Regions from separate parts of the Homo sapiens genome. Here regions 1 and 2 are each linked to region 3. The links come from fine-mapping of genetic effects on gene expression. A gene starts in region 3. Each other region holds a variant in brackets. All regions are shown on one strand. Distances are between the middles of the regions.

Evidence for each region. PIP is the estimated chance that this variant, and not a neighbour inherited with it, causes the effect. A credible set is the group of variants that fine-mapping cannot tell apart.
Region 1: its variant is the best candidate, but not a certain one, in a credible set for the expression of DNM3 in whole blood (INTERVAL, PIP 0.75).
Region 2: its variant is the best candidate, but not a certain one, in a credible set for the expression of DNM3 in whole blood (TOPMed, PIP 0.79).

What each region holds. Positions count from the first base shown.
Region 1 is chr1:172,404,716-172,412,902 of GRCh38, reverse strand. It overlaps DNM3 (dynamin 3), which reads right to left. Exons shown (of 21, transcript NM_015569.5): 21 at 186-5,131. The coding sequence ends at 5,062. All of the region lies in intron 1 of LOC102724528 (a long non-coding RNA gene), which reads left to right. Among named protein-coding and RNA genes, the nearest start is that of C1orf105, 12 kb to the left of the region's middle. The variant C/T (reference allele first, on the strand shown) is at 4,781.
Region 2 is chr1:171,918,900-171,927,086 of GRCh38, reverse strand. DNM3 (dynamin 3) reads right to left here. Exons shown (of 21, transcript NM_015569.5): 2 at 5,266-5,339. Among named protein-coding and RNA genes, the nearest start is that of DNM3-IT1, 59 kb to the right of the region's middle. The variant T/C (reference allele first, on the strand shown) is at 3,822.
Region 3 is chr1:171,836,572-171,844,758 of GRCh38, reverse strand. It overlaps DNM3 (dynamin 3), which reads right to left and starts at 3,261. Exons shown (of 21, transcript NM_015569.5): 1 at 2,942-3,261. The coding sequence starts at 3,102. RefSeq lists an enhancer at 2,837-3,016 and a silencer at 3,217-3,446.

The sequences.
Region 1 (8,187 bases), 570 kb before region 3:
CAATTTGTTCCCTTTAAAAATCCCATCTTTCTCCAAATTAATGACAGAAATGGAAAATGCTATCATTCTTTACTTTGGTAACTCTGGGACAATTTAATCAAAAGAGCTATAAATATTTAGAAGTCTCAGGTATTACTGAAAGGCATAGACATGACTCAAATATATACAAGAATGAGGAAAAGGGGTCCTTCAAATGTTATAATTTATTTCAGCTTCAGAAATACAGCTTCACATTTTCACAATAGGTACATGTGACCTTCAAGAACGATACAGGCTTTGAGATTTTTCTTCAAAAATTCCATTCTAAGAGTCCATATATCAGCATTAAGAAATCCTGAAAGTGCCAAGAAGACAGTGGAAAGTATCCGGCTCATATTAATTAAAGAATCAGCAGAGAAGACAAGATTTTACTTCTGTATATTCCTTCTTCAAACAAAGCAAAAGAAAAATTTGACCCAAAAAAGGGAAAGTAAAAATAGACAAGCAAGCAAAACAAAGGCTGTACATGTACATAGGAAATATAACACAAATCAAGTAGTACTGGTGGAATTACTGGTTGGGGGGAATAATTTTTAACAAACTGGTAGCAGACAAGGCAAGTGGTTAGACAGAGTAATTTTTGTCATAATTTTAAAACATTTCATAATGAGCGAAGTTTAAGGAATTCAAGAGTAAAAATTAAAAAGAGATTAATGACTTGAGTTGAGCCATATGTGAAACCTCCAACCAGAAGTGAGAAGTCTCACCAATATACCAGTATGAACAGGTCTTAAGACAAACACTCCTCTTTGAGTTTCCTCTCTCTTGCTCTCACACATACACACATTCTTACATATATACAAAGACACACACACACACACAAATAGCAGTGCATATATTACATATGCTTCAAAAATATTCTTAAAGTTTCACCTACACAGCACCACATAATTTTAAACATAGCAACCAGACAGGATGAGTAAGAGTATCTAGAAGACTCATTTGAGCTTTTTAGAATGTACAATGAGTGATCTGGTGAACGAATAATCATTTCTTCAAAATCATCTAGATTCATTTACATTAAACTCTGAGCTCACAGCTAGTAGTCTTCTAATTGAAATGATACAAAACTCATGGCTTAAGTCTCATACACTATCTTCTTTCATGAGTTCAACAGTTAGAGACCTAGTAGGCTTTATTCTTCATTCTGAGGAGATTCCTGTCACTTTCAAATAATTATGCCATTTGCCAAATGAAAAATGTTTACCTGAAAAAGTGGATGACCTACCTCCAAGGTATTAGATAGCTTCTCTCTTATATTTTCAGCAAATTTACTCAGAAAAATCCACTACTTTAATGTTGCTATGTCCTTTTTTTTTTTTTTTACTTCTACCATAGAGGAAAAATGACTATGTATATCAACTTGGCTTTTTAAGATTCAGCTCAGCAATCCAAAAATAATTTATAATTCCAATTAGAGATCTTAAAGATAGGTCTCCAGAGGTTTTACTTCTTACCGAAAAATATTGTCAAAGGTAATTCCTTCTTAGATTCAGATCTTCTTGTGGATTCAGATACAAATGTCTATGGACATTACCATGTTGTCATGGTAATTATGAGCTTTGTACCTCTCAAAATGACTACAATCTGGAGTTAGAAAATTTTGTATACCTCATATATGTTATGAGAAATGAACTATTGTTACCACATGTTATGGCAGATCATTCAAAGCTATCTGTTGTATTATCACAGTTTAAAAAATATCCTGATACCACACATACTAAGTACATGTATACATAGATATTTACAACCATACATATACATATATTTATATATATACACACAGTGCACATACAATCACACTCATGCTTGTGGCATTTTAACTAGTATTTTTAAAACCTACCTACCTACTCAAATGGACATAAAATACACATACTTACAGAAACATACTTACTAGGTATATGCCATATACACAGAGACACATGCATAGAAAATGTGTTTGTACACAGAAAACATCAACATTTATCACATACTGGTATTAGGTCCCATTTCATATTTGAGAATTATGGCTACAGTCTATACTAAAAAGTCACAAAATTAATCTATGTGACCACTTTTTAAGTCTAAGTCGAGAAGGCTTACAGTTACATCACAGGAACTGGTTTCATTAATATACTTTAGAATAAAGTGAGTTTGTATTGGAACAAATAGGAAATTTGCTAATAAACAGACCCTACTGCTCGTCTATGTTATAAAACACGGCTAAAAGCAATATTCAGACGAGTAACCTTGGTAGATGTTTTTTAGAAATGCAATATACTTTTTCTAAATCAATACTATTTCAATAAGCTGTCCATAATTGAGTAAATGGTTATTCCAATTAGTCAATATGCATGCAATATTTAGCATGTGACAATAAAACTATATTTACCTATCAAATAAACATTTACAGTTTATTTTCCCAAATCCTAAAAACACTGATTTTTTAAATTATGCTAGACATGATAGAGCTACATCTATTGTGTTTACAATATCAGAGCAATCAGTTAAGAGAAAATTACACAAAAGATTAGAAATGGTATGGGAAACAGAAAATCATTAAGCTACATTCCCATCTTAAGGCCTGGTGTGCATGCTGCACGTCAAACTATGCACATACTAGAGTTTCAGACTTCATTCAACATTGGCATCTCCTTTTAGCAGAATACAAACCCTTTGGGAAATGAGATTCATACTAATAATATGACATAGTACTGCAGCAAATTAAAAATATTCTCCAATGTCACTGCTGAAATTCTAGAGTAGGCTGGGTTCTATGAGAAATAACTTAGGAGTAAAGAACAAAAATGTACCCACAAAGGTAGACAATTGGGGCAGTGCAACTGTGGGACTATAATCTAAAAGCAAGTGCCAAAGATGACAAATGCCATTGTTTATTACTGCCTAAGATCAGTGGAAGGAAAATTGGAAAAAAATCTCCAATTTTTTTTGACATGGTTTGTGCTGATCTAAGAACACACCAGTGGTTATTCACAATATTTTCCTTTAACAGAAGGAAAATTTTGAAATACAGCAAAACACAAAACCACATTTAGCACAAAGCCAAACCCTGAAGTATATAATCCGTTAGCTGCCTATTTTAGAGAATTCAAAGGAAGAAGCAAAGGGAATCCTAAAAACAAGAAGTTTTATAAAAAGATCTCACTGAAGATTATTTGTTTTACTATGGATGTTTGCTTAACAGTTTTCCATTTAGCTGAGACACTATTTTAAAAATGCAGTATGTATCTTGCACATTGGTTCCATTCACAAAGAGTTAACTTTTTTTCCCCCAGTTTGGGGTTTGGGGTGAGATACGAGAGGATTTAGGATTGTGATGTTTTTATACAATCACTGGTAACCTTAAAAGTTGAAATGACCTTTATGTAAATCTTGTATTTTCTGATTTTTACCAATTATAAATGGGTTAGCATAAGCCTTTAGAATAAGTTCAATACAATGGCACTCAACATGGCAAGTTCTCTGTTTAATAATGGTTAAAAGTTTTTACTTTATACTTTATGAGTATCTGCTCTGGGTGTAAACTACACAGGAAATTAAAGTTAAGTTAACATACAAATCATGTTTGCTACTTTCAAAGGGAGACATTTCAGTTGGTGAAACCTGATTTACTTCTGTAGAATATGAAATAGTGTCATGGGACACCCCTACTCAGTGAATACTTGCTCTGCTGTCTGGGAACAGTTAGCACACAAAATTCCAGTTGGCTTCTGGCTGTTTCCTACATGTGAATCATCTGGTCCTTGGTAGTCCAAAACTTAGCCTCAAGACTTAACTATTAACCCCCAGGCTAAACTGTTCTGGTAAATTTTAGAAATCTTAAGAAATTGCAAATTTGCTTTAGATTTCAACGTTTCAATACCCTTTTCTGGAGTGACCTGGATAGGGACTTTGAAATACTGCAACTGTAAAAGTGTGAGCTCTGCTCTTATCCCATGCCATTTCTACTGACTTCATTTCAGGAACCATTCTTTAAATGTGATTATCCCATAGCCTCAAGATTTATTAAGAAAGCCTAGAATGGATATACAGTTACACTGAGCCTGTTTCAAGGGTAGGATAAATTCTTACAAAACAAGATTACAAATTAGCACGTAAAGAGTGAATTTTTTTTCCAACCAAAATAATAATAGTAAAACTGGAGTTAGTATCAAAGTGTAGTTAGCTATGCCAAATAGAAAAGTAAACATTCTCCATGTCAGCCTTCAATATAACCTACCATGAGGTGAATATAAGTAAAGAAAGAAATTATATTTTTCCCAACACTTCTAGAGATGTGATATTTTGCTTCTTCCTTGAACTCTGAAACTAATTAGCCAAATTTATTGACTGATTAACAAAAAAAGAAGCTTTTATTCACTGTTGCATATGCTTCTAGCATGAAGCAAAACACATTGGAATGAGGAGAAGCTCTTTAGAGCAAACAGTGCAGACTTTTCCTTTGCAAACTACCTCGTGCTTCTGGAAAAGTTTATTCTTAAGGAGTCCTAATTTTAAAAAATCACTTCCTAGCAGTCTTATGAAATAAAAAGGAAGAAAAGAGGAGCTAAATAGGCAATTATGGAGTAGGTAGTAGCATTAATGGTAGACAACAGAATTACTGTCATCCTAAACAGAATGTGGGAAAAGAAATATGTATGGCTTAGGTCTAAGCCCACTATCTCATATCTGAAGAATTACGTTTAATGAGCTACCTGGTAGATAGCCTAGAAAACTTGTCCAAAGCAATTTCAAATATATG[C/T]CATGGTAGGCAAATGATCCCCAAAGTATAGGGCTGCTATACAAACCTACCTTGGTCAGTACAACATATAAAGCCTCTAAAAGGTTAGCAGTTTCTGAGTCAAACCCCAAAGGTTTGACATACCATGAGCAATGAAGATGAGCGATGAATGCATTAGTAAAACTGGTTACTTGCCTACTGATGTCCACACATGCGACTACTCATGATTTACTGCAACGGTTATCAAATATGTTGCTTTCGCATAATTCATTAGTGATTAATTGCCATGCCAGACACTTCGTTTAGTCTAACAGGGAGGATTCTAGTGGGCGGATTATAGTGGGACGAGTTGGTGATGGGGGTGGTCTCCGGCTAGAAAGAGAAAAAGAGAAAGGTAAAGAAACAAGTAGAATATCTAGCAGAACATTGTTCCAAGGACACTGAGAAAGAGCCATTACACACATGCTCATGCACATACAGGCCAGCAGAAGTGGTTATGATCTGTAATGATTTTAACATTGTCACCTTTCATTTATCTAGTAGTTTTAATGAAAATTACGTCTTTTTTCATATGCAAATCTTTCTCAAAACTGAAGTCATTCCTTCCAATACTAATAAGAAATATGAAACTATTTGAAAGCCATCTGAAACGTACTGCACATATCTTAGCCAATAGAATATAATAATTACATAGAATGAACTCAGGAACTAATAAGGTATACTGTTTCAGACAATGATGGCTTTTGAATTTTTATTTCTCACATATAATTTTCCTTTTTCTTTCAGGATATTATTATCACTTCTCATTGCCTTTTTGACTTTCTCCAATTTGTTCTATATTATGCTTGTAATTTACAGAGCACTAAAAATCAGAAAAGCAAGTCTTTAGAGTTCTCTGTAGCAAGTGTAAATAGGCTCAGTGTTGAGTGCCTGTTTAAATTGCAGGAGCTCTAGTTCCTATTTTGGGTCTTAAAGACTTTAGTATTGGTATTAGTAGTATTACTCACTTTCTAGTTGGTAATGATGTTTCTGGTAGCTGAGTTTACTAAGCAAACGTACTTTAGATAATGAAATATTACTGTATTTGAGAGTCTCAACATTACCAAGTAATATTATTTATTACTTATTTATTCCTCAAGCTTCTACATTTATTTCCTAAATATATTAATAAGTTTTTTTAGTGTATTTGTGTACTTGACTTCATATATGGTATCTTGGGTAGTCATTTTTTTACCCCCCCAAATTTGACAAAGTCTACAAATTGAAATGTTTCTTTTTGATAAAACTCTGCAACTGATTTTTTCAGAAAGACTCCTTCTGGAATTATAGTCATAAATTTTTCTTCTGTATTAGAAACTCTATATTGATCAAATTGAATGTCCTTTCTCAGGTATGAAGAAGTGAAGTTAGAAAAATTTAAGAAAACTATTATGAAAAATAGTTTTGAAAAATAGTTTTGAAAAAAATAGTTGTTGAAAAATCATGGAACTATAAAATTAAATTACACGATCAAGGAAAAATCAAAGCAGGAGAGATATTGTTGATTAATGGTGAAAATATTAACTATTTAGGCACAAACTCATAGATATTAGTAGAATTCCTTTTACCTCATGCACTTGAAAAATGTGTAAGAGGCTTCAAAGGAAATCTTTCTTTGGGGAGGTACAAAGCACTGGAATTACAGGTGTGAGCCATGGTACCCAGCCTTATTTTCATTTAAAATGGCCATATATGTTTAACTTATGTCCTGAATCTTGAATCTGCATAATTTTCTTCTTTGATAGGAAGTTTCTGAAGGGCGCAGGTCACACCCACTTAACTTGTTTCATACAGTGTTTAGCATGGTGTTACATGCAATTACATTCTCAATGTCATTTTGGTCATCTTCTGAGACTACTAACTAATCATTTAAGACTTACTTCAGTGAAGCCTTCCCTGACCTGCCTTCCCCTCTCCTGATACAGTTGTTTGTATAGCATCTCAACAAATCTCTATTATTAGTCATCACACTGAACTCTAATTAGGCTTATATGTTATCTTCACTGATGAGAAATGAGCTGTCTCTTAATCATCTTCATGTAACTGTGGTATCTAGCTCACTGCTTGTCATTCAGTCACTGAATGTTTGATAACTGAATGAATGAAAGTTCCTCCTAGAATCAAGAAATAACTAATGAATGCTTGTGATATTCATTGGTCTTATAAATACAAGGATATTTGTGAGTAAATCATGGCCATGGCAAAAAAAAAAAAGTAGCTAAAGTGACATGTAGGATTGAGATCCTTGGTGACTCTAAAGTATCTAACTGCTCAGTTCTTTAGTAGATATTTGGAATAAATACCAAATAATAAGCCCCCTGCCCTCAGGGAGTTTGTCAAATAATCATGTAACCTATGGAAATGTATTCTTAGCAATTAACCAGTTGGCTGGTGGGAGGAGAGAACTGGCCAGAATTTGAGCTTTAAGGAGGGAAATTCTACCAGAAGTTTTGATAATGGAATTAATTAGGTGATTTCATTAAATAAAAAGTTGATTTTAGACTACAAATTCAGTGAGAAGTAGGATACAGCATGGCATGATGGATTGGAAATCGTTTCATGAATATGTGATAGCTTGGATCAAGGCTTGTAGCCAAGAGAGAAAGGAATGAAACTGACTTCTCTTGATCCTTTTGTTCTTGGCTTAACTGTTATTCCTCAGTCCTTCTGGACCATCCCATAGTTTTCCTGACTTCCTCTGCCTTCCCCTATGACTTCATGTTTGTGTCTCTCGTAGCACGTAACCCTACTTGTGATTATGTATTTATTTACTAGATTATTACCAGTGTCCCCCAAATAGATTCAAAATTCCTTGAGAAAAGAAACCACATATTTTGCATTTATTATGTGTATTCAGCATTTGGTACAATGTGATTAGAAAGCAGTGGTTAAGTATTTGTTGAATAATGGACAAATGAAGAAATGACTGAAAAGTGCCTAAACAAGATATTTAGCCAGGCTAGAGTTTAGGCTAGATCAAGGTGAGTAGGTCTAGCGAGGCCAAGGATGCTACACTTTTAAGGCATTTATCAGAAGCTTATATTTGAGATACTATGTTTACATAGAAAGAGTCCTGGATCAGAAGTTAGAAAATGTGGATTCTAGCTCCAGTTGCCAAATTGTACAATCAGACTAGATGATCTATGTCAAGACTTCCAGTTATATATTGCATAGATTATTTATTGAGCATCTAATATGTGGACTGCTTCATGCTACATGACTTTAAAGAGCTCAGCATCTATTCAGAATGGAAGATGAGTGGAATAAAACAAATATGAAAGTAGCTTTATTATAGTACTTCATTTTAAGTGGAAAAGTGGGGCAAAATTTTGTAATTCGGAGTCTGAGAATACACTCTGGGAAGTCTGAAAATACAATAATGTGGTCAA
Region 2 (8,187 bases), 82 kb before region 3:
AGGGTAGATGCCTTTTATTTCTTTCTTTCCCCAGCTGTCCTGGTTAGAACCTACCGTACAATGTTGAATAAGAGTGACAAGAGCAGACATCCTTGTATTATTACTGATTTTAGACAGAAAGCATCCAGTCTGTCACCATTAAGTATGATGGTAGCTATGTGGTTTTCATATAAGCCCTTTACCAGGTTGAGGAAGTTCCTTCCCCTTTATTTACTAAGAGTTTTATCATGAATGCATGTTAGATTTTGTCAAATACTTTTTCTGAATCTATTGAGGTAATTCTGTGATTTTTTTTCATTCCACTGATATGATTTTCAGATGTTAAACCAATCTTACATTCCCGGGATAAAACAAGCTCATTCTGAAATTCATATTGAACTTCAAGAGACCCAGGATAGCCAAAACAATCCTGAAAAAAAATAAAGTAGAAGGACTTGCAATTCTCAATTTGAAACTTACCACAAAGCAAGGGTAATTAAGAGAGTATGCTATTGGCCCAAGGATAGACATAAATATCAGTCGAAAAGAACTGAGAGTCCCAAAATAAACCTGTATTTCTCTGGTCAACAGATTTTTGACAAAGGGGCCAAGATCCTACAGTGAGGAAAGAATAGTCTTTTCAACAAATTGTGCTGGGACTAGTGGATATCCACATGCAGAAAATAAAGTTTGACACTTAGTGCATAAAATTATTAACTCAAAATGGATCAAAGCACAAACAAATGGAAAAACATCCCATGCTCATGGATTGGAAGAATCAATATGGTTAAAATGACTATACTGCCCAAAGCAATCTACAGATTCTATGCAATTCCTATCAAATTACCAACATCATCTTTCACAGAATTAGAAAAAACAATACTAAAATTAATAGGGAACCAGAAGAGAGCCCAAATAGCCAAAGCAATCCTAAGCAAAAAGAACAAAGCCAGAGGCATCACATTACCCAACTTCAAACTACTCTATACTAAACTATACAAGGCTATAGTAACCAAAACAGCATGGTACTTGTATGAAAATAGACACATAGATCAATGTAAAAGAACAGAGAACTCAGAAGTAAAGCCACATATTTTCAACCAACACGTCTTCCACAAAGTCAACAAAAACAATGAGGAAAGAACATCCTACTCAATAAATGGTGTTGGGAAAACTGCCTAACCATATGCAGAAGAATATAACTGGACCCCTATCTCTCACCATATACAAAAATTAACTCATGATGGATTAAAGACTTAAATGTAAGTCCTCAAACTATAAAAATTCTAGAAGAAAACCTAGGAAAAACTTCTCCAGACATCAGCCTAGGAAAAGGACTTCTCACTAAGACCCCAAAAGCAATGCAACAAAAACAGAAATAGACAAACGGGACTTAACTAAACTAAAGACATTATGCACTGCAAAAGAAACTACCAACAGAGTAAACAGACGATCTACAGGATGAGAGAAAATTTTTGCAAACTATGCATCCAATAAAGGACTAATATCCAGAATCTATAAGAACTTTAAACAAATCAACAAGAAAAAAACAAATAACCCCATTAAAAAGTGGGCAAAGGCCAGGCACGGTGGCTCACACCTGTAATCCCAGCACTTTGGGAGGCCAAGGCAGGCAGATCACGAGGTCAGGAGATTGAGACCATCCTGGCTAACATGATGAAACCCCATCTCTACTAAAAATACAAAAAAAAATTAGCCAGGTGTGGTGGTGGGTACCTGCAATCCCAGCTACTCGGGAGGCTGAGGCAGGAGAATGGCATGAACCCAAGAGGCGGAGCTTGCAGTGAGCTGAGATCGCACCACTGCACTCCAGCCTGGGTGACAGAGCAAGACTCTGTCTCAAAAATAAAAATAAAATAAAAAGAATTTAAAAAAAGTGGGCAAAGGGCCGGGCATGGTGGCTCATGCCTGTAATCCCAACACTTTGGGAGACCGAGGTGGGTGAATCACCTGAGGTCAGGAGTTCAAGACCAGCCTGGCCAACATGGTGAAACCCCGTCTCTACTAAAAATACAAAAAATTAGCCGGGCGTGGTGGTGGGCACCTGTAATCCCAGCTACTCAGGAGGCTGAGGCAAGAGAATCACTTGAACCCAGGAGGCAGAGGTTGCAGCGAGCCGAGATCCCGCCACTGCACTCCAGCCTAGGCAAGAAGAGCGAGACTCCATCTCAAAAAGGGGGAAAAAAAAAAGTGGGCAAAGGACAGGAACAGACAATTCTCAAAAGAATACATAAAAGCAGCCAACAAACATAAGAAAACAATGCTCAACATCATTAATCATCAGAGAAATACGGATCAAAACTACAATAAGATATCATCTCATACCAGTCAGAATGGCTATTGATATGTTTAGGCTTTGTGTCCCCACCCAAATCTCATCTTGAATTGTAATCCCCATAATCTTCACAATCCCCACATGTCAAGGGAGAGACCAGGTGGAGGTAATTAATGGGGGGCAGTTTCCCCCATGCTGTTCTCATGATAGTGAGTTCTCATGAGATCTGATAGTTTTAAGGGGCTCCTCCCCTTTGCTTGGCTCTTCTCCTTCCTGCCACCTTGTGAAGAAGGTGCCTTGCTTCCCCTTTGCCTTCCACCATGATTGTAAGTTTCCTGAGACCTCCCCAGCCATGCTGAACTGTGAGTCAATGAAACCTCTTTCTTTTATAAAATACCCAGTCTTGGGCAGTTCTTCATAGCAGTGTGAAAATAGACTGATACAGCTATTGTTAAAAAGTCAAAAATAACCCATGATGGCAGGGCTGCAGAGAAAAGGGAACACTTATAAACTATTGGTGGGAATGTAAATTAGTTTAACCCCTATGGAAAACAGTATAGAGAATTCTCAAAGGACTAAAAATAGAACTACCATTTGACCCAGCAATCCCACTACTGGGTAGCTACCCAAAGGAAAAGAAATTATTATTTCAAAAAGATACCTATACTTGTATGTTTACTGCAGCACTATTCACAACAGCAAAATCATGGAATCAACCTAAGCCCACCAACAGTTGACTGGATAAAGAAAACAGGGGACACATACACCATAGAATACTATGCAGCCATAAAAAAGAATGAAATCATGTCCTTCACAGCAACATGGACTGAGCTGGAGGCCATTATTCTAAGAGAAATAACAGAAATAGGAAATAAAATACCACACATTCACACTTACAAGTGTGAACTAAACAGTGGGTAAACATGGACATAAAGATGGGAAAAACAGATGCAAAGAACTCCAAAAGGGGGAAGAGTGGAAGAGGGGTGAAGGTTGAAATTCTACCTATTGGGGACTGCGTTTACTATTTGGGTGATAGTTTCACTAGAAACCCAAACCTCAGCATTACACATTATGCAATATAACAAACCTGTACCTATCCCCAAATCTAAAATGAAATTTAAAATTTAAAAATTAGTAATTTTAAAAAATGGATCAAAGACCTAAGTGGAAGATCAAAGCTATAAATCTCCTAGAAGAAAACATAGAATAAAGTTTTATAACCTTGGTTTTGGCAAAGGATTCTTAGATATATACAAAAATAACGAGAAATGAAAGAAAAAAGTAGATAAATTGGACTTCACCAAAATAAAAAATCTTGTGCTTCAAAGGACACTGCCAAGAAAATGAAAAGGGCCTATAAAATAGAAAAAAAAAATGCAAATCAAATATCTGATATGGGACTTGTATTTAATATATATCTGTTACAATTCAGTAATACAAAGGCAAATAACCAAATTTAAAACTAGGCAAAGGAAATGAATACACATTTATCTAAATAATATATACAAATGATCATTAAGCACATGAAAAGATGCTCAGTATC[T/C]TTAGTCATTAGGAAAACGCAAGTCAAAACCACAGTGAGATATCACTTCTTACCCACAAGGGTTAGCAAGGATATAGAAAAACTGTAACCCTCATACACTGCCGGTAGGAATGTAAAATGGGGCAGCTGCTTTGAAAACAGTCTGTCAGTTCCTTAAACAATTAAACAGAGAGTTACTACATGGCCCAGCAATTATACTCAGGTATATTTCTAAGAGAAATGAAAACACATGTCCACACAGAAACATGTACATGAATGTTTATAGCAACATCATTCATAATAACCAAAGGGTGGAAACAACTCAAATGCTCCTCAGTTAACGAATGGACAAACAAAATGTGATCTATCCAGACAATGGAATATTATTAGGCCATAAAAAGAAATGAAGTTCTAATACATGCTACGACATGGATGAACCTTGAAAAGATTATGCCAAGCAAGAAAAGCCTATTACAAAAGACCACATATTAAATGATTCTATTCATATGACATGTCCAGAATAGGGAAATCCATAGAGACAGAACATAGGTTAGTAGTGCCTAGGCTGGAGTGGTGGGGAAAGGTGTTATGAAAAGAGGTGACAGCAGAAACATACAGGCTTTCTTTTGGGAGTGATCAAACAGTTCTAAAGCTGATTGTGGAGATGGTTGCACATATCTGTGAAAAGACTAAAATCTATTCAACTGTTAACTTCTATTGGTCAAGTTGTATGGTATGTAAACTGTATCTTTAACAAGCTATTAAAAATATTTGCAATTTATGATAGATGATTTTTATGAGGTGCTTCAGTCTTAAGCATTCAAAGAAATTGATAGGAAAACTAGTAAAATCCCCAAAAAGAAATGGGGAAAAAGAAAAATGGCCAATTCACGAGAGAAGAAATACAAATGGCAAATAAACATGAAAAAAAAATTCAACATCATCAGTTGCTGAAATAAAATGAAAATAAAAACAAAGCATCATTTACCTATCAAATTATCATGATGTAAGAGAGAGAAGGAAGCATAGCACAGTGTAAATATAGATACGCACATACACATCCATACAGATATTATATGGTTGTTGAATTTTATGAGTTAATCCCCAAGTGCATGTGCATGCACACATACGCACACACACACACACACACACACACACACACAAAGCATACCAAAGGAGTATTAGTGGTTGTGCTGTACTGTAAAATTATATAGATGGATTACAATGAGCAATAAAACATTTTTTTAAGTAGGTATTTTAAAAAAATCTATGAAAATATCCCCTTTAATGTAATCAAAGGAATGAAAAGAGCAATGAAGAAGGCAGCATTCTGGAGAGAAATGTGGGCAGCTGCCCACAGTGGGGCGATCACAAAAACGTTTCTATTTGTACAATCCCACACCTATGAAGGCAAAAGGGGCCACAGGATGTGCCCATCCATGCGGTAAACATCTTCATTCATTACCTGCTTTAGAAGTAACAAGCTGCAGCACAAGAGGTCGTCTTGTTACAATGCCCGACCCTCGAGGGAGAAAGTCCCTAAAAAAAGTAAGAAATACAGATTAAGGCATGAAGGAATTCTTATCACCTGTACATTCATAAACCAAGTTCCACAGCAATTCTCCTAATTCCCAACCTTTCAATGTATCGCTTATCCAAACAATGATAGGCCCATCTTAATAAAAGAAGCATTTTCAAATTTAAAAAAAAGGAGGAGGAGGGCCTTATATTGCACAGAAATCCATGTACATTATCATAATGACTTCACTGGAATATGTCATTCATTCATCTAGCTGAAACTGATAAAAGTTTGCCCTTAGTTTCTGTGTATTATCAATGAATTTTGATTTTCAGAGAATCAGCATTAAAGAAAATATGTGATACTGAAATTAATTCTTAAACTCTTTTTGATAATTAAAAAACCCAGTACGCTCTTTGGCCTCAAGATCAATATTAGCACCATCATATACCACTACTAAAGGCACATTAGATTGTATCCTCTAAATATACTGACACTTTTCTCCAATAAAAGGAAACAAGGCCGGGCACAGTGTTCCACACCTGTAATCCCAGCACTATGGGAGGCTGAGGCTGGTGAATTGCTTGAGTCCAGGAGTTCAAGACCAGCCTGGACAACATAGCAAAAACCCAGCGCTACAAAAAAAAAAAGAAAAAAAAAAACCCTACAAAAACTAGCCAGCCAGACGTGGTGGCGTGGGCCTCTAGTCCCAGCTACCCAGAAGGCTGAGGTGGGAGGATCGCTTGAGCCTGGGAGGCAGAGTTGCAGTGAGCCAATGTCGCACCACTGCACTCCAGCCTGTGCAACAGAGTGAGACTCTTGTCTAAAAAAAAGGACACATAAAATGTGGGATCAAGTAGAAATAAGTATTTTGTCTATAGAAATTAACAGCAGAAAACAAACATTGCAAATTGAGTTTTGTTTGTTCTCATTCCATTTGTTCTTATTCCTGATAAATGGACGTTTTGATAAAGATCATATTTTAAATGACATATTAATAAACACTAAGCTAATAAAACTGCAGCAAAGATAGTACTACATAATATTACATCTGCAATGCCACATAAATTATTGCTGATTCTGCAATGTCGAAGAATTCAAAAACATACCTATAGCACAGTTTTTAAACACATTTAGAATGTCTCACAACTTTTAGAGGAATCATCACAGAATTCCATTCAAAATAAACTTTTCACTCAGTGGCAGTTTTTCTCAAAATGTGGTTCCAGGCCCATCAGAAAGTATTATAACCACAGACACCCAGGACTCATCCTGAAGCTACAGATTCATCATATTCAGGGGAAGGCATGCAGCATTTGTACTCTTAACAAGCTCCCAGATGTTTCTGATGCTCACCAAGGTTTGAAAACCACTGGCCTCAAGTCAGGATATGTTACTCAACAATTCAGTGGGCAATAATGGCATGTGGCGTGCTATGAGTTTTGTAGGAAATTTGGCAGAACAGAGCTTCAACACAGATGGGATTTCAATGAACAGCAGCTTATAAAATAGGCAAAGGACAGTGAGAATGCTCCAAAACCCAAGTGTTTAGCTGCACTGATAGTTTGGAATGGAGAGTCAAAAAGATAAAATCAAGCCAAATTTCTCCTACTACAACTAATTTATTTGGCAAGTGCTACTGTGTGTTCTGACAGAGGAAATAGTACTGAACAACCTTAAGTTAATGACTTTTCTCATTGACTTCAAGGACCAAAGTTCATTTAGAATGTCAACGTATATGACTACAATAGAAAATAGTGAAATTACAAATTTGTATGTGCTTTTGAAAATGCGACTGAAATACCATTATTTATTCATCAAAAAAAATTCACTGAGAAATTAAGAAGTGCTAGGGAGATGCTGTGGGCATGGACTCATGCTGGGTAGACACCAGGAGTTCGGAACCTAATGGGAACAAAACATAGTCATGAAAACCATTAAAGAAGGGAAGATAAACTACATTGGAGTTCAGAAAAGAGAAAGAACAATACTCTCTTTATAATGATGTTTTGAATATATTTAAATACATATAACTAAATACACTTTTAATATTCTTCATGCGCTATATTAGAATAACTGCTAGTTTAGATGGCTTCAACAATCATTTAAAATTTAATCAAAATAAACAAAGCATCTACTTTGTTTTGTTTGTTTTATTTTTAACCAAAAAGGAACAGGTTAATTTGAGAATCAAAATGAATGCAGGGAGGGAAAAAAGCAAAACTCCAGAGTAAAGAGCTGGAGGGCACCATGGAATACTGTTCAGCCATAAAAAAGGATGAGTTTATGTCCTTTGCAGGGACATGGATAAAGCTGGAAACCATCATTCTCAGGAAACTAACACAAGAACAGAAAACCAAACACCGCATGTTCTCACTCATAAGTGGGAGTTGAACAATGAGAACACATGAACACAGGGAGGGGAACATCACACACCAGGGCCTGTCAGAGGGTGGGGGGCCAGGAGAGGGACAGCATTAGGAGAAATACCTAATGTAGATGACGGGTTGATGGGTGCAGCAAACCACCATGGCATGTGTATACCTATGTAACAAACCTGCATGTTCTGCATATGTATCCCAGAACTTTAAAGTATAATAATAAAAAAAATTTAAGTCAGGATATAAAAATAAAAAGAGCTGGAGGGCATCTGTTTGAGCCGTGAGGACCATGAGTGAAATTTTAGGATGTATAAAATGCCAAGGAAAAATGATGAATGGCCTGAATAATGCCATTTAACAAGTCAATAAAATATTTTCTTCAAGAAAAAAGGCAGAGAAGAAAGGACAGAGAGAAGAAAGAAGAAAAAAAGGTTTAGTCACTTTATATCTTCATGCTGAGACCTGTTTCAATTCATGCTTGTGACCA
Region 3 (8,187 bases):
TCATTAGATCTTAAGCTGCCTCTCATTGCCAGCATATATCTCATCCTGCACCACCAAAAGAACAATCTGGTTACTCATGCTATATCACATTAATATGCAAGTTCATCACTTCAGCAAGAAAATCACAAACAAGTGGTTCATTCATGACTCATTTTATTCATAACAATCTCAAACCTGTCACCCAAAAATCAGCTTTTACAGCAACCGCTAAATGAAGTAAACATATTCACATCCGAATTCATTCATTGGTGTCCAAAAAAACTCAATATAAACAAACTGAGAGAAGATACAGTTAGTCCACTAAATGAGGATTGTTGAGAAAATGCATCATTATTTTGTAGAGAAGAAGCTTGAGTCAAGAGCAAACACAATGAATTTACACAAGTGATGACCCTTGGTTTTTATGGCTGCATTCAATAACTGCACATTAGATCGAGTCTTAAAATGAAAACTGTTTCGTGTAAAAGAGGAAAGTTGCATCCTTAGGAAAGAAACTGTTTTTATTGCAAAATTCCTGGATAATGACAAGAAAATGCTAAGATGTTACAGTAGAAAATGGATACAATTTTTTCCACCTAGGCTGAATAACTTATCAAAATAGAAAACTCCATTTTCCCTAAGGTTGGTTTATAATTAGAAATTAGATTCCTCAATAATTCAATGACCGAAATCTTTATTAAAGTCAAATGACCTTCCTAATTAAATTTTCTCCTTAATATGTAAGCTCTGCTAGGCAGGTGTTATCTCTACATATAATTAAGACTTTACATATGAATTAAATGACCTTTTTCCTCTATGGTCATCCTTTTCTTTGATTTGGCGTTCTAACAGTCAATTAGTGGTAAAACTTTTTAAAGTACAACAAATTACTAATGCATTCTGGTACGTGCTCTGATTTTTATACTTGTCCCTATTTTTTATTCCATCTTGAAAAATATTCAAACTTAAATATTTTACTCTTCTACATTTCTTTTTTCAAATTATTCCAAAAGAACATAGCTAGTGTGGGGAGATGTGTACAATTTTATTATAACATTAGGAAGAATGTTAGAATTTCAAAACCTAGAATGTAGAATTGTGGTATGTGCATACAACTGACATTAAGTTCAAAAGCTCTGACCACAAACAATGCACTTGCATACAATATAGGCTCATCCAAGTAAATATATGGGAGATGCATAAAAATATGGTAATTTCATTTGAAATACTTACAGTTTTAATCTTTAAGTATTTGTTTAAAAAACAAAAATAGTTAAATAACTCTTAAGGTGTCATGACAAAAATGCCCTGGCTTTGGAAAGCCAAAAATATGTTACCAAAACTCACTCTTTGGATGCCACTTTATATCTCGTAAATTTCATTGGCAACAAATCAAAGAAAGTAACTGTTATATGTTTGAAATCCATCACTTCACCAAAAGTCTAAGATGACGTAGGCAAAATGCTTTACCTTCACTTTGTTCATTAATCAAAAAAAATATAAAAATGAGGTGTAGTGATTAAGTGAATTACTCAAGGATACAAGCCAATTGTCAGCAATTTTACTTTGTTAGGCTTCTTATCTTTCTAGTTCATACAGGAAAAAAAATATCATCTGAGAGATGGAATATCATTTGAGAGAAAGGAATATGTACTTTATGAACACTAACATTTCCAAAGGAAATGTGGGAATATTCAGCTCTAAATTCTACACATCACCAAGCACTAACAAAAAAAGAAAAAAGGAACAGAAACAGGAACCTTCTGCATCCCAAGTCACGAATGAGCCAAATAAAAAGAATAAAGTACAATCTCGCCAGCATTTTTTCTTGGATACTGTACATTTCTACCTGGTTTTCTATTACTAGGAAACAGATTTCAGTTTTCATAATGCTTTTAAATGGGCTTTTCTTAGCAAATGTCTGCACTCTTCAGGCAAGGCCATTAAGGTAACTTAATCCCTCATGAATTGCTCAGTGGAAGAAATGCTGATTCCTAATTCGAAAATTAATTCCTTAGCTGTTTCTGTATTAAGAGTCATGAGGAAAACCACAGCTACAATTTAGATTCAGAATGTTGTCTTGAAGGCTAGCAAGACAAATAGGAGCTTAGAGAACGGAAGATGATGCTGGGGGAGGGGGCGCAGAGAGAGTGCGAGAAAGATGCTGGTCAGTTCCGAGATGATGCAGGAATGACATGGCACCTGGACAACATAAGTCCACGTCCACCCCCTGCCAAGTCTGTGCCTCGGGCTCTCTCACAATTGCCTGAAGCTGTGAATAGGTGCACACGCAAACACACCACCTTTTATTCTTCGACTCTCCGGGAGGAGAATGGTGGGGAAGCGTCTCTGGATAAAGCTTCACCACAACAAACGACGTCTTTCTCCTCGCACCCCGCCTCCCCAGCTAGAGGCAGGCAACAGTAGACAGCTGAGAGGAACGAGAACCCTGGCGAGAAGGAAAGCATCTCCACCTAAGGGAGGGGGCTCGGGGGATAAAGCCCCACAGCCTCACAGGGAGCCTCACGGAGGGCGACAGGAAAAGGAGGGGGGTGTTGAGCTGGGAAAACAGGAGAGGGGCACTGGGAAGCTTTCGGCGCGCTACGCAGGGAGGCTGCCCGGGGCTGGCGCGCACCGAGGGGGTGGGGGTCGAGCCCGGGGCGGACCCCTCCCCCGACTCCCCGACTGGAGGACAGGGAGGAAATGGCTTTGTATCGCACGATGAAAGGCAGGCAGGAGGGCCACCAGGCGGGGGGTGGCAGGGGACGGAGGATGCCCAGAGCTGGAGGACCCCGCCCGCCCCACGGACACCGCCACTCTGCCCCCCATTCCACTCTGCCCCCCATTCCACCGCAGCGCCTGGTCCATCCACCCTCTGGCTCCCGCTGCCCGTCCACGTTCCAACGGCCCGCAGCGGGGTCGCCCCACTGCCGCATCCTTACTCCGCGCCCTGCGCGCTTACCTGCCCACGAAGTTCTCGAGCACCGAGCTCTTGCCGGCGCTCTGGCCGCCCACCACGGCGATCTGCGGCAGCTCCAGCAGGCAGCTCTGTCCCAGCGCCGAAAACGCGTCCTGCAGACGGTTCACCAGCGGGATCAGCTCCTCCATCTCCCGGTTCCCCATCTTGCCCGAGGGGCCGGCGACCAGCTGGTCCCTGCTCGCCTCTACGACCTGACAGGGAGTAGGGGCCGCGCTGCCCTGGCTGCTGCTGCTGCGCCGGGCTCAGCCAGCCAGGTCCTGGCGCAGACGTCGGAGCCCGCCGCCAGCCCGCCGCTTGGCTCTGACAGCTAACGACCCGCAGCGCGCCTGCGCGGGCGGGCAGGGGCGTGGCCTATCTCCGCGACGCCCCGCCCCCGCCCCGCGGCTGCCCCGCCCCGGGCTTCCCATCGGACCACCAGGCCAGGCGCGCACGCACTGCAGCCCAGCTGCGGCCAGATGCCACGGCCTCTGCGTTCTGTGGCCAAGGCTCAGAGGCCAAGTTACAGCGCCGGGTCAGGAAATGGCATGAAATCAGCAGCAGCGGCAGCGTTGTTCTCTTTCAGCGGCTACCAAGCCAAAGCCCAGTGGAAAGCACTATCGCCGCTAACACCACCACACGATCACCAGCAACAGCAGCACCGCCGCCGCCACCACCGGGGCACCGCTGCCAGACTACACTTCCCGAAAGGAAATCTCCTCTGTCACGCCCTTCTCCAGAATCCGCGATGACTCCTCCCAGGGTGGCAGGCCTGTTGGAGTCTAAATTCTTCAATGTGACATCCATCTAAGGCCCTGAGTGGTCTGACCTTACTTAATTCTTCATCTGTAATGACTCGTCCTCCCCAGCCCCGCATAAGCACAGGTAGAGTCTGTAGGGTTTACCGCCCCGATACACCCCTTTAATCACTCTGGCCTGTGAGACTCCTCATGCCATTTGCCCTCCCGGTCTATCTCCTTCTACCGGATCTATCCAGAACCAGGTACCCTGGACGCATTCTGTGAAATTTAGCACATTGAGAAGTGACTGTGTGTGGGGTCCTGTGCCTGATGATCGGGACACAAAGATAAATGGCCATGCTTCTCTTAGCCTCCACAGACGGTTCCTTTTTAGTCTGCTCCTCAAATACTGATGCTTCGCAGGGTTTCATATATGGGCATTTTCTTGTCTAATGTTTGTCCTCTGCCTGAGGACTTTCCCATAGCTTTAACTCTGAATCAAGGCTGGCGACTACAGAAATTTACATTGCTAGACCCTGTCTCTCTTCTGCAACTTAGACTGTACTCCAAGAGGAGCCCAGAATACTACCTGAGTGTCCTACAAGTACTACAGACTCAATTTATTCAAAACTGAAGTCATCTTTTGTAATCTCAGCATTTAATGTACAGTTCCTTCTAACTCTAAAAAGACATATTAAAATGTTCATAATGTCAAAAAACCTGAAAACAACCCAAATGTCTATCAACAGGTGAATGAATAAACAAACGTGGTATATATATATAGTGAAATAATCTCTGCCACAAAAAAGACTTTTGATATAGCAACAATCTCAGATACATTATGTAGAATGAAAAAGGCCAAAGACCATATTGGTTTGATTTCATGTATGTGAAGTTCTACAACCAGCAAAGCTATTCTATGGTAATAGAAATCGGAACTGTGGTTGTCTTTGAGGAGTGGAGATTGACTGTAGGAGGCATGAGGAAACTTTCTGGAGTGATGGAAATGTCCCATGTCTTGACTGGGATGTGGGCATACATTTGTCAAAACTCCTCAAACTAAACTTTTAAGTGATGTGCATTTTACTGTACATTACATCTCAACTTTTTTTTAAAGCAGCAGAAAAAGACAAATAAAACTGAATGCATCTCCACTGAAGTGGATCTCTATTAGAATGTCTGCCCAGGAAACCTTTTCTAAGAAACACTCCATCCAATGCATGGTTGTAGCCAGAGCAGTCATGAAGATAGAAAGGCATGAAGAAAAACTGAGCCCTGGCCATAGCTGTGTGCACCAGATTGGGCACCTGACTTGAGCTTTACCAATCAAAGCCTTTTCCCAGGAGTATGCAATTGAGAGAGAGATTGGCCTTTGTCTGAGTGACTGAACTATAAGTGAGGAATAACATTGGCAACTATGGTTAGTAAGATTTCACCAGTAGAAGGGAAGTGCTCATCTTCAGAGAAAGAGAAAAGTGAAAAGACACAAGGAGAGGAGCACAGGGAAAGAAGAGGGAAGATCCGGATAGTACCTGTATCCTCAATCTTGTTCATGTCTGATGTCCAACTGTAATCCTGTCCTCAGTTCCTTGTACAACCTCCCCGCCAATAAACTTATAATAAATTCTCCTCTTTGCCTAACCTAATTCAACTCATATTTCTTTTACTTGCAGTCAAAGAATCCTATAAATACATTCTCACACTAGAGATAGTGTGCTCCCTATCTCAGGGACAAGCCTGCCCAATCCCAATCCAGAATCTGGAAGTCATTCTCACTTCATTTTTCCCTCTCTCTCCTTCATCCCCTACACCAAATTGGTACCCAAATAATACCCATTCTACCTTCCTAGAAGCCATTTTCTGTCCATCCTTGCTGCCAGTGCCTCAGTTACAACCATCATTTCTCAAACAACCGTTTTCCTCTATGCTTTTCATATATACACATATATACATATATATATGTACCCTGAATAGATTTTCATTCTTGCCCTTGGCATATTGCATTAAGTCACTAATTTACATGTCCCTCTCTTTCACTATAATGCCCTTCCCAAAGATGTCCACATTTTAATCCCTGGAACCTGTGAATGTTTCCTGAAGTGGCAAATGGGCCTTTGTAGATATAATTAAGGACCTTGGGATGGGAAGATTATTCTAGATTATCTAAGTGGATGCACTCTACTCACATGAATTCTTAAGAGCAGAGAACATTTCCAATCTGCATCAGAGGGAGATATAACTGGGGAAGGGTCCCCGAGATGCATGGAGAAAGGGGACCATGAGCCAAGAAATGCAGGCAGCCTCTAGAAAGTGGAAAAGGCAGGAAACACATTCTCCCTCAGAGCCTCCAAAAAAAATTTTTTTTTTTTTTTTGAGATGCAGTCTCGCTTTGTCGTCCAGGCTGGAGTGCAATGGCACAATCTCAGCTCACTGCAACCTCCGCCTCCTGGGTTCAAGCAATTCTCTCACCTCCGACTCCCAAGTAGCTGGGACTACAGGCGTGCACCACCACATCTAGCTATTTTTTTTTTGTTTCGTATTTTTAGTAGAAACGGGGTTTCACCATGTTGGCCAGGCTGATCTCAAACTCCTGACCTCAAGTGATCCATCTGCCTCGGCCTCCCAAAGTGCTGGAATTACAGGCTTGAGCCACCATGACCAACCCTGCATCAGACTTCTAATGCACGGCACTGTAAGATAATAAATCTGTGTTGTTTGAAAACACTAAGTATGTGGTAACTTGTTACAGTAGCAATAGAAAATTAATACAACTCCTTGAGGGCAGGATCCATCTTTGTGATTCTCAATGTCCGGCACAGTGCATAGCACGTGAGAAGACCACAGTCCACTGGCAGCAGACATAAACAAATTGTTACAACACACATAATATGTTCCAGGGTACAATAGGCTGAACTGTGCCTCCCCCAAATTCATATGTTGATACCCTGAACCCCAGTGTGGCTATATTTGGAGAAAGTAATTGTATTAGTCCGTTCTCACAACGCTATGAAGAAATACCTGAGACCGCGTAATTTATAAAGGAAAGAAGTTTAATAGACTCACAGTTCCACATTCCTCAGGAAGCTTACAATCATGGTGAAAGGTACCTTTTCATGGGGTGGCAGGACTGAGTGAGTGGAAGCAGGGGAAATGCCAGACACTTATAAAACCATCAGATCTCATGAGAACTCACTCACTATCACGAGAACAGCATGCAGTAAACCACCTCCATGATTGAATCACCTCCACCTGGTCCCACCCTTGACACATGGGGATTATGGGGATTACAATTCAAGATGAGATTTTGAGTGAGGACACAGCCAAACTATATTAGCAATTAAGGTTAAATGAAGTCATAAGGAGGAAACCCTGATTCAATAGGATTAGTGGCCTTGTAAGAGGAGACATCAGAGAGCTCTCATGCTGGCTGGCTCCCCCCACCCCTCCCATCTCTCTGTCTCTCTCTTCCCCCTCCACTGCCCTCCTCATCATGTGAGGACACAGCAGGAAGGTGGCCATCTACAAGGCAGGAGAGTCCTCATCAGGAACAGAATCAATGAGTACCTTGATCTTAAACATCTCAGCTTCCAGAACTATGAGAAATAAATATCTGTTGTTTAAGCTACCCAGTCCTTGGTATTTTGTTACAGCAGCCCATGCTGACCAAGACATAGAGTTTGCTTAAAGAAACGTGATGAAACCCGAGGAGTAACAACTCTGTCAGGAGAGAGTCATGGAAAGCTTAGCTGGGCCTTGATAAGTACATCCTGCACTCTGCTACATGCTGTAAGGTACAAAGGATCAGGAGAACTAGCCCTTGCCCTAAGTATTTTGCATTCTAATGTAGAAGACAATGCTACCATGCATTAGACAAAAAATGTATAGCCATTATACAAATGTAAAGTTCACGTGCACTGAAGCAATGCCTGTCATCTCTATGCTCCAGAATTTAGTTCAAATTAGTTTCACCCACCTACTTTAAGAAACCATCCTAAACACTCTTGCCAATTGCTTTCCTTCTTTACTTTCCATTTCTAGAATCAATACTGTGATGACACGGAATTAAGAGAAATCTAACACACACAAAAACACTCAACTCAAGGTCTTTCAGTGATGTAGACCTTTTCTTATAAGCTAATATGGATAAAAGAAATAGCAAAAGAAAACCTAAAGGGAAAAAGCAGAGGGAAAATTTTGACAAAAACAAACTTTCACCTTTAAGGGTGATATGGTATGGCTGTGTTCCCACCCAAATCTAATCTTGAATTGTAGCTCCCATAATTCCCGTATGTTGTGGGAGAGACACAGTGGGAGATAATTGAATCATGGGGATGGTTTCCCCCATACTGCTCTCGTGGTAGTGAATAAGACTCACAAGATATGATGGTTTTATAAGGGGAAACCTCTTTCATTTGGTTCTCATTTCTCTCTTGTTGGCTGCCATGTAAGACATGGCTTTTGCCTTCTGCCATGATTGTGAGGCCTCCTTACCCACGTGGAACTGTGAGTTCA